Regions from separate parts of the Homo sapiens genome. Here region 2 is linked to region 1. The links come from fine-mapping of genetic effects on gene expression. A gene starts in region 1. The other region holds a variant in brackets. All regions are shown on one strand. Distances are from middle to middle.

Evidence for each region. PIP is the estimated chance that this variant, and not a neighbour inherited with it, causes the effect.
Region 2: its variant is fine-mapped to the expression of LRRC36 in pancreas (GTEx, PIP above 0.99).

What each region holds. Positions count from the first base shown.
Region 1 is chr16:67,323,156-67,331,483 of GRCh38, forward strand. LRRC36 (leucine rich repeat containing 36) reads left to right here and starts at 3,660. Exons shown (of 14, transcript NM_018296.6): 1 at 3,660-3,777. The coding sequence starts at 3,708. KCTD19 (potassium channel tetramerization domain containing 19) reads right to left here and starts at 3,586. Exons shown (of 16, transcript NM_001100915.3): 1 at 3,550-3,586. The coding sequence starts at 3,552. RefSeq lists an enhancer at 1,718-1,797 and a silencer at 3,553-3,702.
Region 2 is chr16:67,799,678-67,808,005 of GRCh38, forward strand. It overlaps RANBP10 (RAN binding protein 10), which reads right to left and starts at 6,883. Exons shown (of 14, transcript NM_020850.3): 1 at 6,625-6,883; 2 at 5,751-5,862. The coding sequence starts at 6,859. It overlaps TSNAXIP1 (translin associated factor X interacting protein 1), which reads left to right and starts at 7,212. Exons shown (of 16, transcript NM_001288990.3): 1 at 7,212-7,519. The coding sequence starts at 7,473. RefSeq lists enhancers at 2,472-2,551, 6,006-6,626, 6,627-7,246, 6,952-7,181 and silencers at 6,602-6,821, 7,322-7,441. The variant C/T (reference allele first, on the strand shown) is at 3,215.

The DNA of each region.
Region 1 (8,328 bases):
AAAGCATGGAGTTATTCTACTATGAGCCAGCAATTCCACTCCTAGGTGTACACTTAAGACAAATAAAGACATATGTCCACACCAAAATTTCTAGACTAATGTTCATAGAACATAATAGCCAAAAGGTTGGAATAAACCTAATGTCCATCAACTGACAGATGAGTAAACAAAATGTAGTATATCCACACAATGGAATATTGTTTGTCAATACGAAGGAATGGGATGAACATGGTGGCTTGTGCTTGTAATCCCAGCACTTTGGAAGGCTGAGGCAGGAGATTCACTTGAGCCCAGGAGTTTGAGGCTGCAGTGAGCTGTGATCGTGCCATTGCACTCCAGCCTGGGCGTCAGAGTGAGGCACGTCTCTAAAAAAATAAAAAATAAAAAGGAATGAAGTACTGATACATGATAACAACATGGATGAAATTCGAAACATTATGCCAAGGGAAAGAAGCCAAACAAAAAATCACATATGATTCCATCCACATGCAATGTGTGGACAAGGCAAATTTCTAGAGATAGAAAATAGATTAGTGGTTGCCTAGGGCTGGAGAGGCTATGGGGAGATGGGGTGTGACTACTAATGAGTATGGGATTTCTTTTGGGGATGGTGAAAATGTTCTAAAATTGATTGTGATGATAGTTGCACAACTCTGAACATACTAAAACTCACTGAATTGTACACATTAAAATGTGTGAATTGTATGGTATGTGAATTATATCTCAATAGATCTACAAAAAAAAAAAAAGATGAGGTACTGTCCATTCCATGGAGCGCATGCAGAACTCTCTTGGGATCTTACCTGCAGAGACATTACATTACTGGAGGATGAATGCTATAGATACCTTTTCATATATACAAAGGCAGCAAAGATCACTAACCTTCCTCAGCTCATTGTTAAAAGTTTAAGGTCATCTGTATATCTGTTGGACAAGAGGTTGTTGAAAAAAAAGTTTAAGGTCATCTGTACATCTGTTGGACAAGAGGTTGTTGAAAAAAAAGTTTAAGGTCATCTATTTATAAGTGAATTGTCTTCTTTGTTTCAAGATGACCTAGTTTATCAATACGATGGAAAAGTAGAGAGCCATCAAACATACAAACCATCCATATCAAATTTTAAAATAAAGGGCACTACCCTTGTAAAAATATTTTTTAAAGGGTAGTAAATAGTATATAGAATTTTACCTAAAAAGAACCATAAAACAATATCGAATTCTAATTAAAAATTATGCAGGCTGAAGTGATTGGACTGCAATGTACTGATATCTGCAATTTATTTTGAGATGAATTTAAAAAAGACAGATTGATGGACAGATAGGATTGCTAGATGGACATGTGATAAAACAAATATGAGCAAAATGTTGATTGTAGAATGCAGGTGGTGGATATATGGTGCTCACTGTACAATTCTTTCAATCTTTCTGTGTTTATAAAATTGCATTAAGACGTTCGTGGGGGAAAAACAGTGTTAAAGTAAGAGGTGATTACTTAAGAAAGGAAAAGCTCCCTGCTCCAGAAAGAACCTGCATTTCCCATTCTGACAGCTGAGGAAGGAAAATAAATGCATGCAAGAAAGAATGGGATGGGGTCCATCTCTCCCACAGCAATATTCAGACATAAAGAAGAGCAATTATATATGCCACATTTGAGACTAGAAGAGTTAAAGGGGGTAATAAGAGAAATATGACAAATTGTGAAATGATTGCATAACTGACAGAAGCAGAGCCAGAAAAGTCAATCTAATGAGCTAACCTAGAATTCTAAGTCCCAGCCCTTCTAAAAGCCTTTCTACAAGTTCATGTTCAGGCAAAGGCTGAATGTAACAAATGGAGTGACTAAGGGTCTCACATAGACCAGAAAGCATAAATATGCAAGGAAGGACCCTTGATTCTGCTTTCTGTTCTCCTTAAAGGTGGCTGAGAGCTCAATGGGGGTGCTCAGAGTGTGCAGATGTTGGATGCCAAAGAAAACCTACTTCTCGAAGGTGAGCCCCAGTTCTGGTCTCAGTTCCTCTTTTCTTTCTTTCTTTTTTTTCTTTTTTTCTTTTTTTCTTTTTTTTTTTTTTTGAGACGGAGTCTCGCTCTCTAGCCCAGGCTGGAGTGCAGTGGCACGATTTTGGCTCACTGCAAGCTCCACCTCCCGGGTTTACGCCATTCTCCTGCCTCAGCCTCCAGCCTCCTCAAGTAGCTGGGACTACAGGCGCCCGCCACCACGCCCGGCTTTATTTTATTTTATTTTATTTTATTTTGTTTTATTTTTGTATTTTTAGTAGAGATGGGGTTTCACTGTGTTAGCCAGGATGGTCTCGATCTCCTGACCTCGTGATCCACATGCTTCGGCCTCCCAAAGTGCTGGGATTACAGACGTGAGCCACCACGCCCAGCCCACCCTCTTTTCTTGTTAAGGATAGGGTGTGACAAGAGGGTCCTGGCTCCTTCTTACATACATGTCCCATCCACAGGTGGGCTCTTAAGTGCCTGCTGGAGTGAGGGTAGGGGTTAGGGATGCGGCTGTTCTTTCCCAAAGACTACTCAGGGGCTGGTTAGTGCAGAGCTATCGCAGCCTGGCGACAGCCCTCAGTCACAGGCAAGCTTAGGGGAACCTGTGGTGCTTGAAAGACAAAAGGCTTCTTGCCGGACTGACTTCAGGAAACGGGGTAGCCCTAAAGCAGTCATCCCCACCCCATTACAAAGAGCTTCTCTCTTTCCCACGCTGATCCTTCTCCCCCGAAGAAGCTCCGTCCAAGTAAATTTCTTACCTTTTTTTTTTTTTTTTTTTTGAGACAAGGTCTGGCTCTGTCACTCAGGTCGCCCAGGCTGGAGTGCAGTGGTGCAATCTCGGTTCACTGCAACCTCCACCTCCCGGGTTCAAGCGATTCTCCTGCCTCAGCCTCCCGAGTAGCTGGGACTACAGGCCGTGCCACCACACCCGGCTAATTTTTGTATTTTTAGTAGAGATGGGGTTTCACCATGTTGGCCAGGCTGGTCTTGAACTCTTGACCTCAGGTGATCCGCCCACCTCGGGCTCCCAAAGTGCTGGGATTACAGGCGTGAGACACCGCGCCCAGCCCGTCCAAGTCAATTTCTAGAGCTAGAACTTCCTCATGCTCTAAAGACAGGACCCCAACTCCTCAGAGCCAGGATTCCCAACCTTTCAGATCTGGAGCTCCCCATCATGCCTTAGAGTTCTGTCCCCACGCTCCAATCCTTCAGATTTGGATCTCCCCTTCACACACACCCTCGCCTTGCCCCAAAGTCAGCATCCCCCAGCGCTGAGATATGAAGACCACCCCGTCAAAGGGGCACACGCCCAGCCCTCAGAACCGGAGTCCCCCACATCCTCAGAGCCAGAACACTTCATCCCTCAAGACAGAGCGTTATTCTAACTCCTCAGAGCCAGCCCCCCAAATCCTTCCCGGCTGGGGGCCCCTCGCTCTCTCCCATGCCCCAGAGCCAGGTCTCGAACCACTTAGCCCCAATCCTTGGCCACAGCGGCCCCCATTCGCCGCTTTGGTGCTTTTGGCGCCCCCGCCAGAGCGGGCTCCGTACCATGGTCGCGGCTCCAGCAGCGGGCGGGCGGGCTTGTGACCCGGCCAATAACGGTTCCCGGGGTCGCGGCGGCGCGCGCGCGGGGGGCGGGGCAGTGGGCGGGGCCTGGCGTGCGCCGGGTGGTCTCGCGGGCGGTGGCAGGTGAGCGGCGGGCGGGGATGGCGGAGCAATGGGAGCTGGACGAGGAAGGCATTCGCCGCCTGGGGGCGCTGACGCTGGAGCAGCCGGGTAGGGTCTGGCCGGGAGGGTGTGGACTGGGAACGTAGGGTCAGAAGCTGTGGAAAGAAAACTGAAGTGGAAGGCGGGGAACCTGAGATAGAGGCGAGGGAACCACAGAGAAGCGGTACCTGAGGCTGGGGGGCGGGGGGATAACTTGAGGCAGAAGGTTAGAGGGAGGTGGAGGTGGAGGAACTGAAGTAACGGGAGGGTGTGGGGCAGAGCCCGAGGAATTGAGAGAGAAGAGGGGAGTGTGAAGTAGGGAAGGAGAAACAAGGTTAACAGGGGACCCTGCCGCAGGTGACAGAACTGCGGGGGGCGGTGGCTGACCGCTGTAATCCCAGCACTTTGGGAGGCGGAGGCGGGTGGATCACCTGAGCGTGGCCAACATGGTGAAACCCCGTCTCTACTAAAATACAAAAATTAGCCCGGCGTGGTGGTTCAAGTCTATAATCCCAGCTACTCGGGAGGCTGAGGCAGGAGAATCGCTTGAACCCGGGAGGCGGAGGTTGCAGTTAGCCGAGATCGCACCACTGCACTGCAGCCTGGGCGACAGAGCGAGACTCCATCTCAAAAATAATAATAATAAATAAAATAAATAAATAATAAAATGTCTATTAGACATCCAAGTGTAAGGTACCTAGTAGGCAGTTGGATATATGGGTCTGGACCTCAGAGGAGAGGTCAGGGTTAGAGATGAAAATTTTGGAGACATTAGCAATAGGTGGTATTTAAAGCTACGGGAGTGGATGAACTCAGCTAAGGAGAGAATGTCGATGGAGAAGTGAAAGAAAGCTTAAGACTCAACCTTGGAATATTTCAGTGTTTAGAGGTTGTATAGAGGAAGAATGTGGTATCTTGGAATTTGAGAAGGGGTAGTGTATCGAGCAAGCAATGGCCAACTGTGCCAAATGCTATTGACAGGCTGAGCAACTTAAATGCAGAGTGTCTGTTAGATTTAGCAACATGGAACTTACTGGTGACCTTGACAGAGGGAGTTTTGGGAGGGTGGGGAGGAGGGAAACCAGATTGGAGTGGGATGAAAAAGGGAAATGATATTTGAGGGGAAGAGACAGTGAAAGTAAGAACTTTTGCTGAAAATTTTAGCTGTAAAAGAGACTGCAGAAATAGATGGTAGCTGAAGCGTATGATGTGCAGTCAAGAACAGAACAGGAAGGATATACTAGAGCATGTCGGTAGTCTAATGATTAATTTGGTAGAGGGGGGAAATATGTAATATTTACTCATTTTGACTGTTAAAATAATTCAATTAATTTATTCTGTGGGTAATATAATAATTGTACAGTGAGGGCCAGGCGCGGTGGCTCACGACTGTAATCCCAGCACTCTGGGAGGCCGAGGCGGGCGGATCACGAGTCAGGAGATCGAGACCATCCTGGCTAACACAGTGAAACCCCGTCTCTACTAAAAATACAAAAAAAATTAGCGGAGCATGGTGGCGGGCGCCTGTAGTCCCAGCTACTCGGGAGGCTGAGGCAGGAGAATGGCGTGAACCCAGGAGGCGGAGCTTGCAGTGAGCCGAGATCGCGCCACTGCACTCCAGCCTGGGTGACAGAGTGAGACTCCGTCTCGAAAAAATAAATAAATAAAATAAAAATTGTACAGTGAGAAGAAAGTCTTTACTCCCCCATCCCCGTCTCATAGGCCTAGTTCCCCTTCCTAAAGGCAATTACTGTTACCAGTATCTTGGATAGTTTTCCAGAAATATTCTCTACATATATAAGCATTTATCACTTATTTTATAATTTTATATTATGGCAATTTTCAAATATATACAAGAGTAGAGATAACAGAATAATGAACTCTATTAGCCTACCTCAACAGTTATCATCAATTCATGGCCAAGCTTCTTTCACGTATACCTCACCTATCCTCCACCCACCTCCAACCCCCTACACTGACTATTTTGAAGCAAATTCCAAGTATGTGATTTCCTCCATAAATATTTCAGTAGTATTTTATTTATTTATTGTTTTTATTATTTTTCAGATAGAGTTTTGCTCTGTCACCCAGGCTCTAGGGCAGTGGCGTGATCTCGGCTCACTGTAATCTCCACCTCCGCATTTCAAGCGATTCTTCTGCCTCAGCCTCCCAAGTAGCTGGGACTACAGGCACCCGCCACCACGCCCGGCTAATTTTGTATTTTCAGTAGTGACAGGGTTTTGCCATGTTGGCCAAGCTGGTCTTGAACTCCTGACCTCAAGTGATCCACCCACCTCAGCCTCCCTAAGAGTTGGGATTATAAGTGCAAGCCACAGCACCTGGCCAGTATGTATTTTTAAAAGCTAAGATTACTTTAAAAAAAAGTCACATATGCAACCTAAAAAATTTAACAGTAATTTCTTTTTTTGGTTTTGTTTTGTTTTTGAGATGGAGTCTGGCTCTGTTGCCCAGGCTGGAGTGCAGTGGCATGATCTCAGCTCACTGCAACCTCTGCCTCCAGGGTTCAAGCAATTCTCCTGCCTCAGCTTCCTGAGTAGCTGGGATTTCAGGCATGTGCCACCATGCCTGGCTAATTTTTTTGTATTTTTAGTAGAGACGGGGTTTCACCATGCTAGCCAGGCTAGTCTTGAACTCCTGACCTCAAGTGACTCAGCCTCCTAAAGTGAACAGTGATTTCTTGATATCATGAAATATCTAACTAGTGTTCTTATTTCCCCAGTTGTCCTATAATTTTTTAAAATTAGAATCCATGGCCGGGTGCGTTGGCTCATGCCTGTAATCCCAGCACTTTGGGAGGCCAAGGTGGGTGGATCACTTGAGGCCAGGAGTTCAAGACCAGCCAGGCCAACATGGTGAAACCCCATCTCTATTAAAAATACAAAAATTAGCTGGACATGGTGGCTCACACCTGTAATCCCAACTACTTGGGAGGCTGAGGCAGGAGAATCGCTTGAACCCGGGAGACGGAGGTTGTAGTGAGCTGAGATCGCGTCACTGCACTCCAGCTTGGGTGGCAGAGCAAGTCTCCATCTAAAAAATAAAATAAAATAAGAATCCGTATATGGTCCATATATTGCAATTGGTTGATGTATGTCTTAAGTCTTATTTGATCTGTAGGCTCCCCATTTTTTTTCCCTCGCATTTTCAATTGTTTTTGAAGAAACTGGCTTTGAAAGAGTTTACTATAACCTGAACTTTGCTCATTGCATTCCTAAGATGTTAAACATTTTCCCGTGTTCCCTGTACTTCCTATGAATTGGTAGTTAGATGAGGCTTAATCAGATTCAGGTTGGATTTTTTTTTTTTCACAAGACGATTTCATAGGTAATGGTGTATGTTTATGTTAGGAAGTATATGGTGCCTAGTGTTCTTTCTTTTCGTGATATCAGCCACTGAATATGATTACCTAAGTTAATTCATTAGGGATTGCAAAATGGTAATTGTCTATTTCTTTCATTTTTCTTCATTAACTGTAATACTTCTATAAAGAGAAATTTCCTCACATCAACTGTTTGCTTATCCTGAGGTACAGTTTGTATAGGAAAGGCAGCATAAAAGCTTGATTTGTTTTCACCTTATATGCCAGCTTTCAGAATGATGAGTTATTTTCTTAGCATTCTCCAAAGGTGACCAGTGAGGACTGTTTTGCTTTCTCAGTATCATTATAAACTCATCGATTTAAATATATGTCTTAGGGCTGGGCATGGTCGTTCACGCCTGTAATCCCAGCATTTTGGGAGGCCAAGGAGGATGGATCACCTGAGGTCAGGAGTTCAAGACCAGTCTGTCCAACATGGTGAAACCTCATCTGTACTAAAAATACAAAAAAAATTAGCCCGGCATGGTGGCAGGTGCCTATAATCCCAGCTACTCAGGAGGCTGAGGCAGGAGAATCACTTGAGCCTGGGAAGCAGAGGTTGCAGTGAACTGAGATCGCACCACTGCACTTCAGCCTGGACGAAAGACTGAGACTCAGTCTAAATAAATAAATAAATAAATAAATGTCTTAGTCCCTTTTCTCTTGTCATAACAGAATACCATAGACTAGGTAATTTATAAAGAACAGAAGTTGATTTGGCTCATGGTTCTGGAGGCTGAGAAGTCCAAGAGCATGGTGCCAACATCTGGTGAGGGTCATTCCATGGTGGAAGGGCAGAAGGTGCATGTGTGAGATGTGAGAGAGAAAGAGAGAGAGAGAGAGAGAGAGAGAGAGAGAGAGAGAGAGAGAGAAGACTGAACTAATTCCTTTATTAGGATAGCTAACTCCCGTGATAACTAACTCCATGATAACAGCATGAAGCCACCGTTGACCTAATCACCTCTTAGAGGCCCCACCTCGCAGTGCTGTTACATTGGCAATTACGTTTCAACATGAAAGCTGGGCATGGCGGCTTACACACTTTGGAAGGCCAGGGAGGAGGATGAGGCCAGGTATTTGAGACCAGCCTGGGCAACACAGCAAGATCCTGTCTCTACAAAAAATTTAAAAATTAACTGGGTGTTGGTGGTGTGTACCTGTAGTCCCAGCTACTCAGGAGGCTGAAGTGGAAGGATCCTCTGACCCCAGGAGTTTTAGGCTGCAGTGCACTATGATAGTGC
Region 2 (8,328 bases), 480 kb after region 1:
GCCCACATCACCTCTTATATGATTCTATGATGTTTTCCTCAAACTCTGAGGTACAGTCCATCCTCCAGGCCACCCCTGGATATGACACATACGGTGGCCTGACCCTTCGACACCACCGGTGGGGCCTCATGCCTGTGCTCCTGGGGCCCAGGCTGGGACAAAACAATGGATGTGATGGCTCACACCTGTAATCCTAGCACTTTGGGAGGCTGAGGAGGGCAGATCATGAGGTCAAGAGATCTAGAACATCCTGGCCAACATGGTGAAACACCGTCTCTACTAAAAATACAAAAACTAGCTGGGCATGGTGGTGCACGCCTGTAGTCCCAGCTACTCGGGAGGGTGAGGCAGGGGAATCACTTGAACCCAGGAGGCGGAGGTTTGCAGTGAGCCAAGATTGTGCCACTGCACTCCAGCCTGGCAACAGAGCGAGACTCTGTTTCAAAAACAACAACAACAACAACAACCAAAAAAAAAAAACAATGGGTACTGCGCCCTGGTGTCTGGAATGAATGAATGAGTGCACTGCTGCCTGGCCAAAGGAAGTCAGCTGCAGGAGCAAGGGAAGGCTGGCTGTGGTCAGAGACCCCTGCTCTGGGCCTGGGCCCAGACACTGGCTACAGAGGAAAATGCCCCCACCCCTCTCCATGCCTTCCAGTGCTCTAGCCCAGGCCTACTACTCTTGGGTAAAGCAACCATCACATGTCAGGAGGCCTCCGCCGCTGGGATGATGTTACAGTCTATTTTGAGGGTCACACTGGAGCATCTGTCAGCCTAGCCAGCCACACCCTCCATGTGTCATCACTAAGAGCCAGGGACACCCACAGGTCCATGAACTCTGCCTGCAGACATTGCTCCTCCCCAGGGACCCTCAGCTTCAGGCCCTCCTTCGCTTCCTAGAAAGACAGACCTGGATGCCCCTTATCTCCTGGCACCACTGGCAGTGCTCTGATGTCTCCTCACCCCACCAGACCCGCTCCCCGAGTTCACAGCTCTGGTGACTCGGCAAAATGCAGTTGAAGCCCATCAGTCTGTGCCAAGCTCTTAGCTCAAACACAGCCCCTCCTACTCCACAGAGCTCTCTTATACTTGAGGAGTGCCCAGAAAGCCTAGCACCCAGAAGTCAAGCTAGTTACCCATCAGACTCATAGGTCTAACAGGTCTCGCCTACTGGGGAACTCCTACTCATTCCTCCCAACTGTTCCCAGGCTCTGCCTCCTCTTGCAGAAAGACTTTCAGTCCACTCTCTACTGAATGGGCCACAGGCTTCCTGAGGACAAAGCTGATCTGTGCTGGCTTTACATCTGTTCTCCCTATACCTAGTATAGGGCCTGGAACATAGTAGGTATATATAAATATTCTGTGAAATCTTGACATGAAACTTTCCTTATTAGACTAGCTTAGTGTGTTCTTCTCCAAAAGATATTGTCAAAACAAAGGACGTTCTGGAGAACAATGACACTAACAACTGGGTTTATAAATACCTTTTACAAAGGAGGTGTACTCAAATCTACAGAAAAGCAAGTTTACAGATTAAATGGAACAGTAAGTTGATCAAGCCCGGCCCAGAGCATGCCACAATTCTCTGGCCCTACACAGCACCATGCACCTTTCAGCTCTGTCCCCTAACATTGCAATCTGGTAGGAATCCAACAGAACATTCCTTCACTCTACCCAGGGAAGAAATGCAACAGCTACAATGGGGAAAGGCAGCAGCAGCATGGACATGTGTGTCTAGGATCAGGCGAGGACATCTGATAAGTCAGGCTACTCCACTGCACACCCTAAGCCCTGCAGCCAGGGTAGGCCACCAAACATCCCAGGGACTCAGGGCTCACTCACAAAATGGGAAGGTAGATGATCACCTGCTCTAGCCACTTGCCAGAGATGCTGTGAGGATCAAACTAGGTAACACAGGAAAGCTAGACAACCAGTTAATGCTTGGGTCATGGACTAAACCAGGATAAAAAACACACCTCCAAAATCCATGGGAGGCTGACAATGGTGGCTCCTGCCTGCAATCCCAGCACTTTGGATCACTTTGAGGCAGGAGGATCACTTGAGGCTAGGAGTTGGAGACCAGCCTAGACAACACAGCAAGATCCCATCTCTATAAAATAGTTAAAAAAAAAATCAGCTGGGCATGGTGGCTCATGACTATAATCCCAGCACTTTGGAAGGCTGAGGTGGAAGAAATACTTGAGCCCAGGAATTCAAGACCAGCCTAGGAAACATTGTGAGACCCCATCTCTACAAAAAATAAGAAAATGAGCCAAGCATGATGGCACACACCTATAGTCCCAGCTACTCAGGAAGCTGAGGTGGGAGGATTGACTGAGCCCAGGAAGTTGAGGTGGCGGTGAGCTGTGATCATGCCATTGCACTCCAGCCTGAGCAACAGAGCGAGACCCTGCCTCAAAAAAAAAAAAAAAAATCTACAAAAAAAGGGAAATGAGCCAGTTGATGTCTGCCTGCCCTGTGTAACTGCCTTTGGCCTCCTCAAAACCCACCTGGCCCATACTAACATGTGGCTGCATCCCAGCCATGGGAAGGCTTTCAGGGATTCCATAAAGAGACCATGAGGAGCTATTCATACTCTTGCCATCTGACAGTGGTCAACTGAAGCAGGATACCACAGGTATACATGACCTGAGACCTTTCTAAAACTGATGTTTCCTTGCTGGGCACCATGGCTCATGCCTGTAATCTTAGCACTTTGGGAGACTGACGCAGGTGAATCACCTGAGGTCAGGAGTTCGAAACCAGCCTGGCCAACATGGCGAAACCCCATCTCTACTAAAAATACAAAAATTAGCCAGGCGTGGTGGCGTATGCCTGTAATCCCAGCTACTCGGGAGGCTGAGGCAGGAGAATCACTTGAACCCAGAAAGTAGAGGTTGCAATGAGCCGAGATTGAGTCAATGCACTCCAGCCTGGATGATAAAGGAGACTGTGTGGCAAATAAATAAATTAATTAATTAACATCTGATGTTTCCAGATCAGCTCAACAGCCATGTTTACCACATGTAAAATGCTGGGAATAGATGCCCACCTTTCTTTAGACTTCCAGTCAACACCTATAGTTCACCAATCTAACATGACACAGCAAGATCGACTAAAACTGAAATGTTAAAACCAGTTGAAAGAATCCAGATCTCCAACATAGCCAGACCTCATCTCTCAAAAAATACAAAAAGAAAAAAAGAATCCAGGT[C/T]TCTAAGTGTAAACACTTCCCTTCTGAAGTTGGTCTCTGCTCTCTACCTAGATAACTAACTCAGCTGTTATCTATGATAAAGACTAGGAGAAAACAATCCATTTTCCTCCCTACAAATTTAAGAAGTGCACTTCAGTTTCTGTGGCAGTATGAGACTCCAGCACCACCATTTTAGTCAACATTATTTTCAAGGTGCTTGTTTTAAGGGGCTATTCTCATTCACACTAGTTCAAGCACACTAAATATATGTGCTTCTATCAGACGGTGGAAGGTGAAAATAGGAGCTTTGAAGCCCTCCCATAAATTTAACTTTCCTGTCTGTAAACGCACTAGATGGGGATAAAAATGAAAGATGGCCGGGTGCAGTAGCTCATGCCTGTAGTCCCAGCAGTTTGAGAGGCCAAGGTGGGAGGATCACTAGAGACCAGCCTGGGCAACATAGCAAGACCTCATCTCTACAAATAATTTAAAAAATTAGGCTGGGTGCGGTGGCCCACACCTGTAATCCCAGCACTTTGGGAGGCCAAGGCAGGCGAATCACCTGAGGTCAGGAGTTTGAGACCAGCCTGACCAACATGGAGAAACCCCATCTCTACTAAAAATACAAAATTAGCCTGGTGTGGTGGCACATGCCTGTAAGCCCAGCTACTCAGGAGGCTGAGGCAGGAGAATTACTTGAACCTGGGAGGCGGAGGTTGTGGTGAGCTGAGATTGCGCCATTGCACTCCAGCCTGGGCAACAGGAGCAAAACTCCGTCTCAAAAAAAAAAAAAAAAAAAAAATTAGCCAGGCGTGGTGGCATGCACCTGTATTCCCAGTTACTCAGGAGGCTGAGGTGGGAGGATAACTCGAGCCCAGAAGGTCGAGGCTGCAGTGAGCTGTGATTGTGATCTTGCCACTGCACTTCAGCGTGGGAGACAGAGCAAGACCCCATCTCATTAAAAAAAAAAAAAAAAAAAAAGAGAGAGAGAGAGAAAGATACAGCAGCTTCCCATGATCAGAATTTCAGAGGCATAGAATTCTGGAGTTCAGGCAGCTTAGATGCTGGCCTGGATCCTCACAGTGCAGATCAGGAGACTGAAGCTCCAACATCTACCCAAGACCACAGAGACCTCTCAGGCAGAGAAGTTACATCACTGAGGAAGTAGGCAAGGCTCTGACTCTGGCAGTGTTGCCCCCAGCCTAGTCCCTTGGCCAAGCATTTTGCATGCACTACAAAGGGGACAGTCCCTAGGAGAAAGAAGTTCTGAATGTTCGAGAACACACCCTCAGCGTTGGCATGGTCACCAGAGGGGTTGGCAAACTTCAGACACCAAACCTAAAGTCTGATGAGGAAAGCCTTTCCAAGGTAGCTGCAGTCATGTTACTTCATAACTTACACACCTGCTTCGTCACAATCACTGGGAAAAAAAGGGAGACTGGGAGAAAGAAAAAAAATTAAGTATCTCCCCTATGATTTCCTGTGTCTGCTTGGATCATCCTAAAATAGGGAGTCTCCCTAATGCTGACTTTTTTTTTTGTTTGGTTTTGGGACAGAGTCTCACTCTATTGCCCAGGCTAGAGTGCAGTGGTGCAATCTCAGCTCACTACAACCTCCACCTCCCATGTTCAAGTGATTTTCATGCCTCAGCCTCCCAAGTAGCTGGGATTACAGGTGCACACCACCACACCCAGCTAATTTTTGAATTTTTTTTTAGAGATGGGGTTTTACCATGCTGGCCAGGCTGGTCTTGAACTCCTGATCTCAAGTGATCCGCCCGCCTCGGTCTTCTGAAGTGATAGGATTACAGGTATGCCAGTTAATTTTTTTGTATTTTTAGTAGAGACAGGGTTTCAGCATGTTTGCCAGGCTAGTCTCCAACTCCTGACCTCAGGTGATCTGCCCATCTTAGCCTCCCAAATTGCTGGGATTACAGGCGTGAGCCACCGTGCCTGGCTCCTAATGCTGACTTTAATGAGGACCTTCCTAAAGTTGATCCAACTAGTAGTGTTCAAGTCCTTGGACTGAAAAACAAGTTTATGAGCAGCAAGGTCACCTGATTCTGATCATGTGTATGCTGTTTACCCTGAGATGACAGGCCGGTGGCCACAGAAGCTTTCATGAATGCTGCAAAGACTCTACTATCTCTTTGAAGGCTACCAGGGCCTCCACATGACTAAATGCCATAAAAAAGAACCTCATGAATACAGCAAGAATGTGAAAGGAAGGAAGTCACAAAAACACCACATGCTCATGAGGGAAACTCCATTCTGGACACTAAATTTTTAAAGTAAACTTGTTACTTGTTTGCCTAACCTTCTAGGTATCAAATTACATCATCACTAAAAATAATCCCTGCTTTACCCCCAACACACCCACTGGCCATCAAGATCTGCTGCTTAGACCAGACCATGCCCACAGTCAGGAAATAATGGCAGCCCAGACCCATGCGGCTCCCCAGCTCACATCAGCAACAAGTGCCAGCCAAAGGACCTGAACTCTGACCACAGGGATCAGCTCCATGATCAGGGAAAGAGGGTGGTCATGAAGGGCTTACCCATCTCTTCCTTTGCTGACAATCTTCACTTCAAAGTAATAAATGCCACAGGCAGCAGGTATGGGGTGGGTGGCACGCACTGAGGCCGCATCTTTGTGATTTTTGCCATGACCTAACAGGAGAGGGCAAGTAAGAAATTTCAGCAGAAGGAAATGCAAATGGAAGCCTCATTTTTCTCTGCAACTCCTCCATGACAACTCCACTCCTCTGTGGCCAGAGGACGCACTTACACAGGCCGAGGAATCATTAGACAACTGAATAAACACTTAAACCTTCCACCTTTGCCTCACCTCCTCCTGAGAACAGCAGTCCTGCCTGAGACACTGCCCATACAAACAAAACAAGGGTAGAGGCAATGTGAGAGATACTCAAGTGCTGCTGGCAGCCTCTCTAGAATCCAGGCAGCCCACCTGGGAGGCCAGGGGAAGAAGGATGAGGCCGACCTGGAAGACACCCCCCAAACTCTAGCACGGAACCCCAGGCTCAGTCTAGGATGCCTGGCAGGTGGGGAAGCCCATGAGTCTCACGCTAATGGTAGGTATGTGACCACCCCTTTCTTCTAAGCAGTGGCGAAAGGTCCCGCTGCCGTTGGCGCCAGCCTAGGATAAGCACGGAGGCCCTGGAGTGGAAGGTCCGGCCCAGCACTGGGTTTGGACACCTGTTGCGGTTCTCTTGACGGCAGGTGTCTCAGGACAGAGAACAGGCAGTCAGCCCTCGGCCTGTTCAGCCTCACCACCCTGGACATCCTGAAAGGGCCAAGCCCTAACTTGGAGCACCTAGGCAGGGAAAGGGAGGTGATAGGGCGGGGGCCTGGCAGCAGAGCCACCCCACGGACGCTCTAGCCTTAATTCCCCCCAGCCTGACGGGCCGATACCTTTGTAGTGGACGCGGAGGTTGCCCTGGGAGAGACCAATGTAGTTGTATTTGTCCTTGGGGCTCCAGGAGCGCGGCAGCGGAGTCTCTTGCTGGTTGACCGCGGGATACAGGCGCTGCAAGCGCCGGCTCAGCTCCTGCTCCCCAGGGGACGGCAGCCCGCCCCCAGCGCCCCCGCCGGAGGAGTCCCCAGGCTGCGGGTTCCCAGCTCCCGGGTCTGCCGTCGCTGCCGCCATCTTGGAGGGAGCTACTATTGTGTCACTGGGGGCGGGGAGGAGCGGGACCAGATCCGCCCCGCTCAGCCAATGGCCCGTGAGCCTCCCTGGGCCGCAGGGAAACCGAGTCCGAGTCCGGCACCCCTCTTTGGACACTGACACGCCTTACCACATTTCGAACTCCATACCCCACAATGCAGAGCTCTCGAGAGGCGGAGCAACTCGGGCTGGTAGAGAATTCTGGGAGATGTAGTATAACCGTCCTCAGCCATAAGCCTGTCCCATCGAGACGTCGGGACACCGAAAACTACCATTCCCGCCGGCAAAGCGGCTCCGGCCTCTCAGCACACTTCCCTCCCCATGGCCTCTGTTCATCCCCCTGCCTCAGTTCTGGTACCTGGGGTCAAATCGGCTGTAGTGGTTGACTCTCAGGGCACCCGCTGCCGGGTCCCAGTCCACCTTTGCTACTTTGTCCTACTCCCAGCCCGCGGGCGCTAGGCTCGGGGGCGTGGCGCATCCCTGACTCCGCCCCCGCCGCGGGGGGGCCTCTGGGGCCTGGTCGCCATGGCGACCGGCTGTACGCTACCACAGCTTCCCAGGCCGCGGGTGCTGATTGCCCGCCTGCCCGTGGGTCATGGCCTGCCAGCAGTCGCGGTACCACAGCTTCTCGTCCGCGTCGAGGTAGGCGCTGGCAGGGATGAGGGCAGAGATGAGGGTTTGAGTACTTCTAGAGAGGGAAATGGCACTTGATCCGGACCTCTGCACCTCCTGCTGGCCTCTGACCATTGATCTAGGGCTCCAGCACCACAGAGTCAATGGTTAGAATCGGGCTGATTTAGCCCAGTGAAGACGTTACGTGCTAGCAAAACGGTAGGCGCACTTTATCATTACTAGTAACAACCAGCTTGTATTGAATGTACTATATGCCAAATGCTTTATATACCACATTTTTAAATATTTTATTTTTGAGACAAGATCTCGTTCTGTCGCCCAGGCTGGAGTGCAGTGGCACTACTACGGCTCACTGCAGCCTCGACCTCCCGGGCTCAAGCGATCCTTCTACCTCAGCCTCCCGAGTAGCTGGGACTACAGGCATGCGCCACTACGCTTGGCTAATTTTTGGGTGTTTCTTTGTTCGTTTGTTTTTTGTAGAGACGAGGTTTCACCACGTTGCCCAGGCTGGTTTCGAACTCCTAGACTCAAGCGACCCTCCCACTTCGACCTCTCAAACTGGGATTACAAGCGTGAACCCCCACACCCGGCCTACGTACCATATTTAATCCTCACAACAACTGTATAAAGTAGTAATATTACCATTGAACAAGTAAAGAAATACTTTAGAAGCCTGGAGAGATCATCCTCTGGGTAGCTTCTGCCTGTACTCAGGTGTATAGCCTCTGGGTACTGCAAAATATGACCAGCTCCATCAGCCTGGAGAGCCATACATACGGATTAAAACAAAAATTTTGGCTAAATCGTTTTCTAGTTTT